2 separate regions of the Homo sapiens genome follow, and region 2 is linked to region 1. The links come from fine-mapping of genetic effects on gene expression. A gene starts in region 1. The other region holds a variant in brackets. All regions are shown on one strand. Distances are from middle to middle. Region 1 holds the start of SGPP1 (sphingosine-1-phosphate phosphatase 1). Region 2 overlaps WDR89 (WD repeat domain 89).

The links.
Region 2: its variant is fine-mapped to the expression of SGPP1 in whole blood (INTERVAL, PIP above 0.99).

The regions. Positions count from the first base shown.
Region 1 is chr14:63,725,284-63,730,660 of GRCh38, reverse strand. SGPP1 (sphingosine-1-phosphate phosphatase 1) reads left to right here and starts at 2,596. Exons shown (of 3, transcript NM_030791.4): 1 at 2,596-3,400. The coding sequence starts at 2,717. RefSeq lists enhancers at 2,105-2,294, 3,255-3,304, 2,949-3,450 and silencers at 2,505-2,604, 2,895-2,994.
Region 2 is chr14:63,634,924-63,640,300 of GRCh38, reverse strand. The region is part of intron 1 of WDR89 (WD repeat domain 89); the gene reads left to right. Among named protein-coding and RNA genes, the nearest start is that of WDR89, 4.3 kb to the left of the region's middle. The variant A/G (reference allele first, on the strand shown) is at 3,170.

The DNA.
Region 1 (5,377 bases):
GGCTCAAGCAATCCTCCCACCTCAGCCTTAAAAGTAGCTAGGGCTACAGGCATGTGCCATCACACTCAGCTAATTTTTTTATTTTTCTTTATTTTTAGTCTGAGTCTAGCTCTATTGCCCAGGCTGGAGTGCAGAGGCACAATGTTGGCTCACTGCAACTGCCACCTCCCAGGTTCAAGCCATTCTCCTGCCTCAGCCTCCCGTGTAGCTGGGATTACAGGCACCTGCCACCATGCCTGGCTAATTTTTGTATTTTCAGTAGAGATGGGGTTTCACCATGTTGGCCAGGCTGGTCTCAAACTCCTGACCTCAAGTGATCCACCAGCCTTGGCCTCCCAAAGTGCTGGGATTACAGGCATGAGCCACTGCACCAGCCCCCCACCTAATTTTTTAGAAAATATTTTTGTAGAGTCAGGGTCTTGCCATGTTGCCTAGGCTGGTGTCAAACTACTGACCTCAAGTGATCCTCCCACCTCAGCTTCCCAAAGTGCTGGGATCAAAGGAGTGAGCCACTGCACCTGGTCTCTATGGACTATTGTTTACCAAATACATTTTTGCATATCCCTATCTTCCTTCACTTTCTCTTCCTAAAATGGGCTTCTTCACCTATTCATATTTTGCTCTGTAAAACAATCCAGCTCTACAGGATCACCTCCTAACACCTTTCTTCCTGTTCCTAGTCAAACTTGTCCTCCTTTCTGAGGCATGCTGTTTATGTCTGTTTTACACTTGCCATCTTCTCTATACTCTAGAAGTAGTCCTGTCTTTCTTTATCTCCCCTAAACTGTGAACAACTTGAGAGCATGGGTGATGATTTATTCCTCTTTCTATGGCCACAGCCTAGCAAGTGGAGTGGGAGGAGGAGAGTACCTGTCCCTGCGAAATGAAATTTTTTTTTTTTTTTTTTTTTTAAGATAGGGTCTTACTCTGTTACCCAGGCTGGAATTGCAATGGCACAATCAGGGCTCACCGCAGCCTTGACCTCCCGGGCTTAAATAATCCTCCCGCCTCAGTCCCCCAGTTATCTGGGACTACAGGTGTGGGCCACCATGCCCGGTTAATTTTCTTTTTTTTTTTTTGAGACAGAGTTTCACTCTTGTTGCCCAGGCTGGAGTGCAATGGCGCGATCTCGGCTCACCGCAACCTCTGCCTCCCTGGTTCAAGCAATTCTCCTGCCTCAGCCTCCGAGTAGCTGGGATTACAGGCATGCACCACCCCGCCCGGCTAATTTTGTATTTTTAGTGGAGACGGGGTTTCTCCATGTGGGTCAGGCCGGTCTTGAACTCCCGACCTCAGGTGATCCGCCCGCCTTGGCCTCCCAAAGTGTTGGGGTTACAGGCGTGAGCCACTGTGCCCAGCCCTGCCCGGCTAATTTTGTTCATTTTTTGTAGAGGTGGGATCTCCCTATGTTGCCCAGGCTGTTGTCAAACTCCTGGACTCAAGCCATCCTCCCTCCTCGACCTCCCAAAGTGCTGAGATTATAGGCATGAACTACCACGCCTGAAGGAAAGTATTTCTACTGTTTTAAGGGCATGGGACAATTTCAAGCCTGTTTCTTGGAAGTAGTTCACATTCTTTAATTACAGACATTCACCTGATCATGGCGGGTGTGGTGGCTCACGCCTGTAAACACAGCACTTTGAGAGGCCAAGGCAGGAGAATCACTTCAGCCCAGGAGTTGGAGACCAGCCTGGGCAATATAGCGAGACCCTGTCTCATCTCTCTCTCTCTAGGTATATATAAAAGACATTCACCTGACCTGAGGAGTTCAGAGACCTTATAAACTGCTCTAGCTAGAAGTCAAGTTGGTAACTTGTGAGACACGGAAGTTAAGCGTCTAAATTAACGTTACCAAACTCAAAAATCTATACACTGCATTCATTCTCTACATTTATTCTGTGCAAGCCCTCTAGGTATTAGAATCTAGGAAAAGGAAATTTTACACTTAAGAACACCTGTGCTCCCTTAACATATACCAAAATATTTGATAAATGACACAGTATTTTGAATTTGTAGGTGGCTGGCTTTTCTTTTGCAGACCACACCTGTTAATATCACCTGGCCCTGTCTTGGGATCTACATGTAGTCTTGTCACCACTGGTCAATTGGCACATGGTTTTCCGAACATCAGTCGCCTGGGACAGCTCTGTAATTACTTGTTAATTACTTGAGTCGAATGATTCCGAACTCATGGTAGTTGCTTCGCCTTCATTGATCATTCACCATTTGGTTCTGTGCCAGCAGGATGCCCGGCTGCTTGGTCACAGGCATTGCGCAAGCTGGCACCGGGATCGTGGCCTCTTTAAGTCAACTTCTGGCTGAGGGAATCCGGCGACACTAGCCCGCGGAGAAGAAGGGCTGAAGGTGGAGCAGGGGGACACGCCGCGTCCCACCAGACGTACGCCGCGACGCCTGCTGGTGGATATTACCCGGGACCTCAAAGCGGCCGCCCGCCGATCCTCAGCGCCAAGCCACGGCCGGATGCGCTCAGGGCGGACCCGCGCGGCCCGGCCCCTCAGGGAGCCCGGGTGGGGGCGGGGCTGGGCGGGGCGGGGCGCGGCGCGCGCGGGGCGGGGGCGCGCGGCCTGTGGCGCCGTCACCCGGCAGACTCCGGAGGGTAGAGCGCTGTGCCGGTTCCGCTGCCGCTGGCCAGGAGCGCGGGGACAGTTCGGGGCTGCGCCGGAGGCCGGCCCGCCTTCCCGGGGGTTCCGTTATCATGTCGCTGAGGCAGCGCCTGGCCCAGCTGGTTGGCCGTCTGCAGGACCCGCAGAAAGTGGCCCGTTTCCAGCGGCTGTGCGGGGTGGAAGCGCCGCCGCGCCGCTCAGCAGACCGGAGGGAGGATGAGAAAGCGGAGGCGCCTCTCGCCGGAGACCCTCGACTGCGAGGGCGGCAGCCAGGGGCGCCTGGAGGCCCCCAGCCTCCCGGGAGCGACCGCAATCAGTGCCCGGCCAAGCCGGACGGCGGCGGCGCCCCCAACGGCGTGCGGAACGGGCTGGCGGCCGAGCTGGGCCCGGCCTCGCCGCGGCGCGCGGGCGCTCTGCGCCGCAACTCGCTGACGGGCGAGGAGGGCCAGCTGGCCCGCGTGAGCAACTGGCCGCTCTACTGCCTGTTCTGCTTCGGCACGGAGCTGGGCAACGAACTCTTCTACATCCTGTTCTTCCCCTTCTGGATCTGGAACCTGGACCCTCTGGTGGGCCGGAGGCTCGTGGTCATCTGGGTGCTGGTCATGTACCTGGGCCAGTGCACCAAGGACATCATCCGCTGGCCGAGGCCCGCCTCGCCGCCCGTGGTCAAGTTGGAGGTCTTCTACAACTCTGAGTACAGCATGCCCTCCACCCATGCCATGTCCGGCACCGCCATCCCCATTTCTATGGTCCTCCTCACCTATGGCCGCTGGCAGGTAGGGTTCCTTCTCGTCCTGTTCAGCCTGGGGGAGTTCAAAGAACTCGGAGTTCTCTTTGCTCTCTGCATTTATTTTAATTCGACCGTTCCCCTCCAAAGCCTCTCTTTCCACAGGTTTTCACAATACTCGCAAACAGGCCCTTTCTGGGTTTTGAAAAATTAAGTGATTGGGGGAAACTGGATACTTAGCCGTTGAATTCTATTTTAATATTAAATTCCAATTTAATGCCTTAGAACCCAAAGGACACACTTTTCCTAGAGTAATACATTGTCATTGGGCTTTGGTTGAGTTTTTTAAACGGCTTTAATTCTTGTAATGCACAGTGGAAGTGAATTTTTTAAATAATCGCTATGTAAACTAAGACCCAGTTTCACCGTAATATATGGTGCCTTCTTCCCTAAAACTGTTTCAGAAAGAGGTAAAGTCATTAGCTTTACCGTGAGACAGTGTTTACAAAACGTTAGTGTAATTCCAAAACAAACATGCTAGTTCCAAGCAATGAAGTAATCGATTTTCATCGAAGTTCCCTTTATGGAAGTTAATGGAGCACAGGGTGAGTTCTGTTTTTAAGGGGTGTGGTTGCTACTTTGCTGATAAAGTTTGATTATCTTCTGGATCACTAATCTGTAGTATCTAACAGTTGTTGAGCTACAACTGTAATACTATAGTGTTATTGCCTCATTAACTCTAAAAATGCATGGTTTAAAAGTTATTCTTAAAGATAGGGCTCTTGATCAAACTAGTGGGTTTATAAAAATGGCAAATATGACAGCAGGGTCAGCCTGACAATCAGGAAAATTTTTTTTTTTTTTAACCCTCTCTGAAAACTGCCAAGGGAAGAGTTTTTAATGGTAATCGTTTTTATTTTGCTTACTTCTTTTGGCCTTCCAATGTTTATCTGTCTTTGAACTGTAAGATTTGTTAATCCTGCAGACCAGTCCCTTATTTTAAGAATAAAGTGCGTAATTGTGGAGATTCTAAGGAAACAAACTTCCTCTATTTTTTCCCCCTTTACTTCACAAAATCATTTTACATTGAGAAATACACATTCTGTGTAAAACTCCATTATGATAAGCTTACTTATCCCACATTAAATTTCAGTGTAGATAAAATTTCGTCCCCATGGATACTTCTGTGTAGTGCATCTCTCTTACAGTACATGGAAAATACGCATTGTGCATAGTAAGAATGGCAGAATTAGGAGGAAAGAGTACCATGGGAAGTTTTTTTCTGTTTAACCAAAGGAGCTATACGGTGATGTTCAGATTGTGAAGCAGTGCTACCTGTTTTGCGTAACAGATAAATATCTCGAAGTTTTCATTTAATCTAAATATTTCAGAATTTAAGATTTTCAATGAGCTGTGTTTGGCCTGGTGATGTTAGCTGATGATGTTTCTCTTATTTTCGTGAGACTTTTAGGATTCTGTAACAATAGAGCCTTTTATGATGCCTTCTCAGTGAGTAGCTATTTTGTATGCTATTAGTATTAGCAGTCAAAGTAAGAGAAAATAGCTATTTTTGCTCTTTATTTGTTCTGGACACATACTAACTGGAAGTCTGAAAACAGTACTGCTGAATCGTTTATGGGATATTGATATTCTAACATTTCAGGGTTATTTGAATTATCAGAATAAGCTTAGATTTAGTTTTTAAACAACCTAGTATATTTAACTCAAAGTTTAAGAAATTTGCGTATCATAGAATTTTAGACTTTGAAGTAGACCGGATGTTAGAAATCACTTAGTTTCAAACTGTCATTTTACAGATGTGCAAACTGACCAGTTACATTAAAATTAATCTTGTAATGCTTTAAATTTCTTATTTTACATTTTTTCACTCTAAATTTGCATGATTTTTCGGTTAGTTGTTCTGAAAGAAAGCCTCCTGACGGAGTCTCGCTCTGTTGCCCAGGCTGGAGTGCAGTGGTGCAGTCTCGGCTCACTGCAACCTCTGCCTCCCAGGTTCAAGCAATTC
Region 2 (5,377 bases), 90 kb after region 1:
AATAGATACAAAATATGTTACCGATGAAAGCCACGTGACTGTTTCTGCTTTTCAAATTCTTTCTTGTGGAGCCTGGACTGCACTGCAACCTATGGCCGAGTAAAACAGTGGTAACTTGCAGTCAAGTACCATTTAAGTGAGAAATCCTCTGAAACGTCTATGGACTGCTTATCTCCTTGTTCAGTATTCAGGAATACTTTCCTGTGAATGCAGCTATGTTACTTACCTGGTTTGTATTCTTACCTTAGATTGTTGTAGCTATTGTAAAGCAAAAGTAAGATCAAGCCCATGTAACTACTTTTTGGGTTCTTTTCTCTCACTTTGTAAATACAGGGTGTTTTTCCAGACGGGAGTGCGGTGGCACAGTCTTAGCTCACTGCAGCCTCGAACTTCTGAGCTCAAGTGATCCTCCTGCCTCAGCCTCCCAAGTGGCAGGGATTACACACGAGCCACTGTGCCAAACCCGTGAAGTTTTTGAGTTGTACTTTTGTACTAAAGTCATGACTACTTTTTCTGCAACTGACACTATGAGCTGCAAATACGACTGAAGATGCTACTGCTTTTTTACTTTTTCCCTATGTGCTTTAAAGAACTACATTTTCAGTGATTTCCATGTGTTTAAGATATTTTCATTTACTTGGTAGAAAATACAAGAGAATTTTGATAAATCTGAACTGGAATGGTCTTTATGTTAATTCTGTTCAATATTTTAGGGCAGATTATGTACAGATTATCGCCAAACTGTCAAAAGGGTGTATTTTGTTCATATAGCTACTGTAACAAATTACAACAGATTTAGTGACTTCGAATAACACACATTTATTCTTTCTGCCTTTGTTTCTTTCTTTTTTTTTTTTCCTTTGGTGAAAAGTACACACTTAAGAAAGGGGAGTGCAGATGTACTCAAGAGAGTCACCTCTTCCTTTTTTTTTTTTTTTTTTTTGGTAGAGATGAGGTCTCGCTATGTTGCCCAGGTGGGTCTCAAACTCCTGGGCTCAAGCAGTCCTCCCACCTTGGCCTCCCAAAGTTCTGGCATTACTGGCATGAGCCACCATGCTCAGCCTCATTTATTGTCTTTTAGTTCTGGAGGTCAGAAGTATGAAATCAGTTTCACTGGACTAAAGTCAAAGTGTTGCAGGCCCAATTCCTTCTGGAGGCTGTGAGAAGAAAATCCATTTCCTTACCTTTTTCAGCTTGTAGTGGCTGCCTGTCTTCCTTGGCTTGTGGCTCTTTTCTGCACAGGACATCATGCTATCATCATACCACTTTCTCATCTGTAGTCACATCTCCCTCTGCCTCTCTTATGAGGACATTTGTGATTATATTAAGGACCCCCCCAGATAAACAAGGATACTCTCTCCATCTCAACATACTTTGTAAAGTCCCTTTTGTCATATAATGAAACAGTCATAGATTCCAGGAATTAAGACCTTTGTATCTTTGAGGGCCAGTGTTCAGCCTACCACAGGAAGGTATAAAGAAGAGTAAAACATCCTATCCCATAAAGTCTCACAGGGACTATAAGAGAAAAACAAATTCACAGTAAATGGTTGCTGAGTTAGACTTTCTTATTACTGTGAAAATAACCTAAGTCACCACAGGTTGGAGCTTCGCCAATTTTTCCACTGGAATATCTTTAATAGCAAAGGTAAATGAATATTCCTGTGATATTTGGAAACAAAGCCTGAATTAATGCTTTAGAAGAGTAAAATTTCTTTGAATTCTAATCTTATAATTTAAAATTTTATGTGACTTTTGCATTCAGTTTTATATGTTCATGGTTGATGCTGTTTTGAATTATATTTAAGCATTGCTGTTCTAGAGAAAAGACTGTTTATTCTGTAGTTTCATTATTGTTTTACTTTTAAATTTATTTTTAGAGATAGGGTTCTCACTATGTTGCCTATGGTGGACTCAAACTCTTGGGCTCAACTGATGTTCCCACGTAAGCCTCCTAGCTGGGACTATGGGCATGCAACCCAGTGCCCAGCTAATGTAGCTTCTTGTAATTTTCTTTTTTGGGGGGGCAGTGACTTTTTTTTAAAACTTACTTTTTGGCCAAGAACGGTGGCTCATGCCTGTAATCCCAGCACTTTGGGAGGCCGAGGCGGGTGGATTACCTGAGGTCAGGAGTTTGAGACCAGCCTGGCTAACATGGCAAAACCCTGTCTCTACTAAAAATACAAAAATTAGCCGGGGATGATGGTGCGTGCCTGTAGTCCCAGCTACTGGGGGGCTGAAGCAGGAGGATCACTTGAACCTGGGAGGCGGAGGTTGCAGTGAGCCAAGATCGTGCCACTGCACTCCAGCCTGGGTAACAGAGCGAGGCTGTTTTGAAAAAAAAAAAATTTTTCCGTAAGTTATTGGGGTACAGGTGGTATTTGGTTATATGAGTAAGTTCTTTAGTGATGATTTGTGAGATTTTGGTGCACGTATCACCTGAGTAGTATACACTACACCATATTTGTAGTCTTTTAATCCCTTGCCCCCCCTCCCCCGGCCAAGTCCCCAAAGTCCATTGTATCATTCTTATGCCTTTGTGTCCTCATAGCTTAGCTCCCACATATCAGTGAGAATATATGATGTTTGGTTTTCTATTCCTGAGTTACTTCACTTAGAATAATAGTCTCCAGTCTCATCCAGGTCATGGCAAATGCTGTTAATTCATTTCTTTTTATGGCTGTGTAGTATTCCATTATATATATACACATATATATACACACACATATATATACACACACACACACCCACCACAGTGTCTTTATCCACTTGTTGATTGATGGGCATTTGGATTGGTTCCACGATTATGCAGTTGTGAATTGTGCTGCTATAAACATGCGTGTGCAAGTATCTTTTTCAAATAATGACTTTTCCTCTGGGTAGATAACCCAGTAGTGGGATTGCTGGATCAAATGTTAGTTCTGCTTTTTAATTCTTTAAGGAATCTCCACACTGTTTTCCATAGTGGTTGCACTAGTTTACATTCCCACCAGCAGTGCGGAAGTGTTCCCTGTTTACCACATCCACGCCAGCATCTCTTGTTTTTTTATTCTTCACTTATGGCCATTCTTGCAGGAGTGTGGTGGTATCACATTGTGGTTTCGATTTGCATTTCCCTGATCATTAGTGATGTTGAGCATTTTTTCATAGGTTTGTTGGCCATTTGTAT[A/G]TCTTCTTTTGAGAATTGTCTCTTCATGTCCTTAGCCCACATTGTGATGGGCTTGTTTGTTTTTTTTCTTACTGATTTGAGTTCGTTGTAGATGCTGGATATTAGTCCTTTGTCAGATGTATAGATTGTGAAGATTTTCTCCCACTCTGTTGTTGTCTATTGACTCTGTTGACAATTCCTTTTGCTGTGCAAAAGCTCTTTAGTTTAATTATGTCCCAGCTATTTATCTTTGTTTTTATTGCATTTGCTTTTGGGTTCTTGGTCATGAAATCCTTGCCTAAGCCAATGTCTAGAAGGGTTTTTCCAATGTTGTCTTCTAGAATTGTTAGTTTCAGGTCTTAGGTTTAAGTCCTTAATCCATCTTGAGTTTATTTTTGTATAAGGTGAGAGATGAGGATCCAGTTTCATTTTTCCTCCATGTGGCTAGCCAATTATCCCAGCACCATTTGTTGAAAAGGGTGTCCTTTCCCCACTTTATGTTTTTGTTTGCTTTGTCGAAGATCAGTTGGCTGTAAGTATTTGGGTTTATTTCTGGGTTCTCTATTCTGTTCCATTGGTCTGTGTGCCTATTTTTATACCAGTACCATGCTGTTTTGGTGACTATGGCCTTATGGTATAGTTTGAAATCAGTTAGTGTGATGCCTCCAGATTTGTTATTTTTGCTTAGTCATGCTTTGGCTATGCGGGCTCCTTTTTGGTTCCATATGAATTTTAGGATTGTTTTTTCTAGTTCTGTGAAGAATGATCGTGGTATTTTGATGGGGATTGCATTGAATTTGCACATTGCTTTTGGCAGCATGGTCATTTTCACAATACTGATTCTACCCGTCCATGAACATGGGATGTGTTTCCATTTGTGTTGTCTATGATTTCTTTCAGCAGTGTTTTGTAGTTTTCCTTGTAGAGGTCTTTTGACTCCTTTGTTAGGTATATTCTTTTTTTCTTCTTTCTTTTTTGAGATAGAGCCTTGCTCTGGCTCACTGCAACCTCCACCTCCCGAGTTTGAGCAGTTCTCCTGCCTGAGCCTCCCAAGTAGCTGGGACTACAGGTGTGCACTACCACGCCTGACTGATTTTTTTGTATTTTTGATAGAGATGGGGTTTCACCATGTTGGCCAGGCTGGTCTCGAACTCCTGACCTCAAGTGATCCACCTGCCCCGGCCTTCCAAAGTGCTGGGATTATAGGCTTGAGCCACTACCCAGCCTGTTAGGTATATTCCTAAGTTTTGTTTGTTTGTTTGTTTTTGCAGCTATTGTAAAAGGGGTTGAGTTCTTGATTTGATTCTCTGCTTGGTCGCTGTTGATGTATAGAAGAGCTACTGATTTGTGTACATTAATCTTGTATCCAAAAGTTTTGCTGGATTCTTTTATCAGTTCTAGGAGCTTTCTGGAGGAGTCCTTACAGTTTTCAAGGTAATTGACCATGTCTTCAGCAAACAGTGACAGTTTGACTTCCTCTTTATTGATTTGGATGCCCTTTATTTCTTTCTGTTGTCTAATTCCTCTGGCTAGGACTTCCAGTAGTACATTGAGGAGGAGTGGTGAGAGTGGGCATCCTTGTCTTGTTCCAGTTCTCAGAGGGAATGCTTTCAGCTTTTCCCCATTCAGTATTATGTTGGCTGTGGTTTGTCATAGATGGTTTTTATTACATTAAGGTATGTCCCTTATATGCTGATTTTGCTGAGAGTTTTAATCATAAAGGGATGCTGGATTTTGTCAAATGCTTTTTCTGTATCTATTGAGATGATCATGTGATTTTTGTTGTTAATTCTGTTTATGTGGTACATCACATTTATTGACTTGTGTATGTTAAACCATCCCTGCATTCCTGGTATGAAACCTACTTGATCATGGAGGATTATCTTCTTGATATGTTGTTGGATTCAGTTAGCTAGTATTTTGTTAAGGATCTTAGCATTTATGTTCATCAAGGATATTGGTCTATAGTTTTGTTTTTTGGTTATGTCCTTTCCTGGTTTTGGTATTAGGGTGATGCTGGCTTCATAGAATGAATTAGGGAGAGTTCCTTTGTTATCTTGTGGAATAGTGTCAAAAGGATTGGTACCAATTCTTTGAATGTCTGGTAGAATTCTGCTGTGAATCCATTTTTTTTTTTTTTGGAGACAGAGTGTAGTGGCACAATCTCAGCTCACTGCAACCTCTGCCTCTAGGTTCAAGCGATTCTCCTGCCTCAGCCTTCGAAGTAGC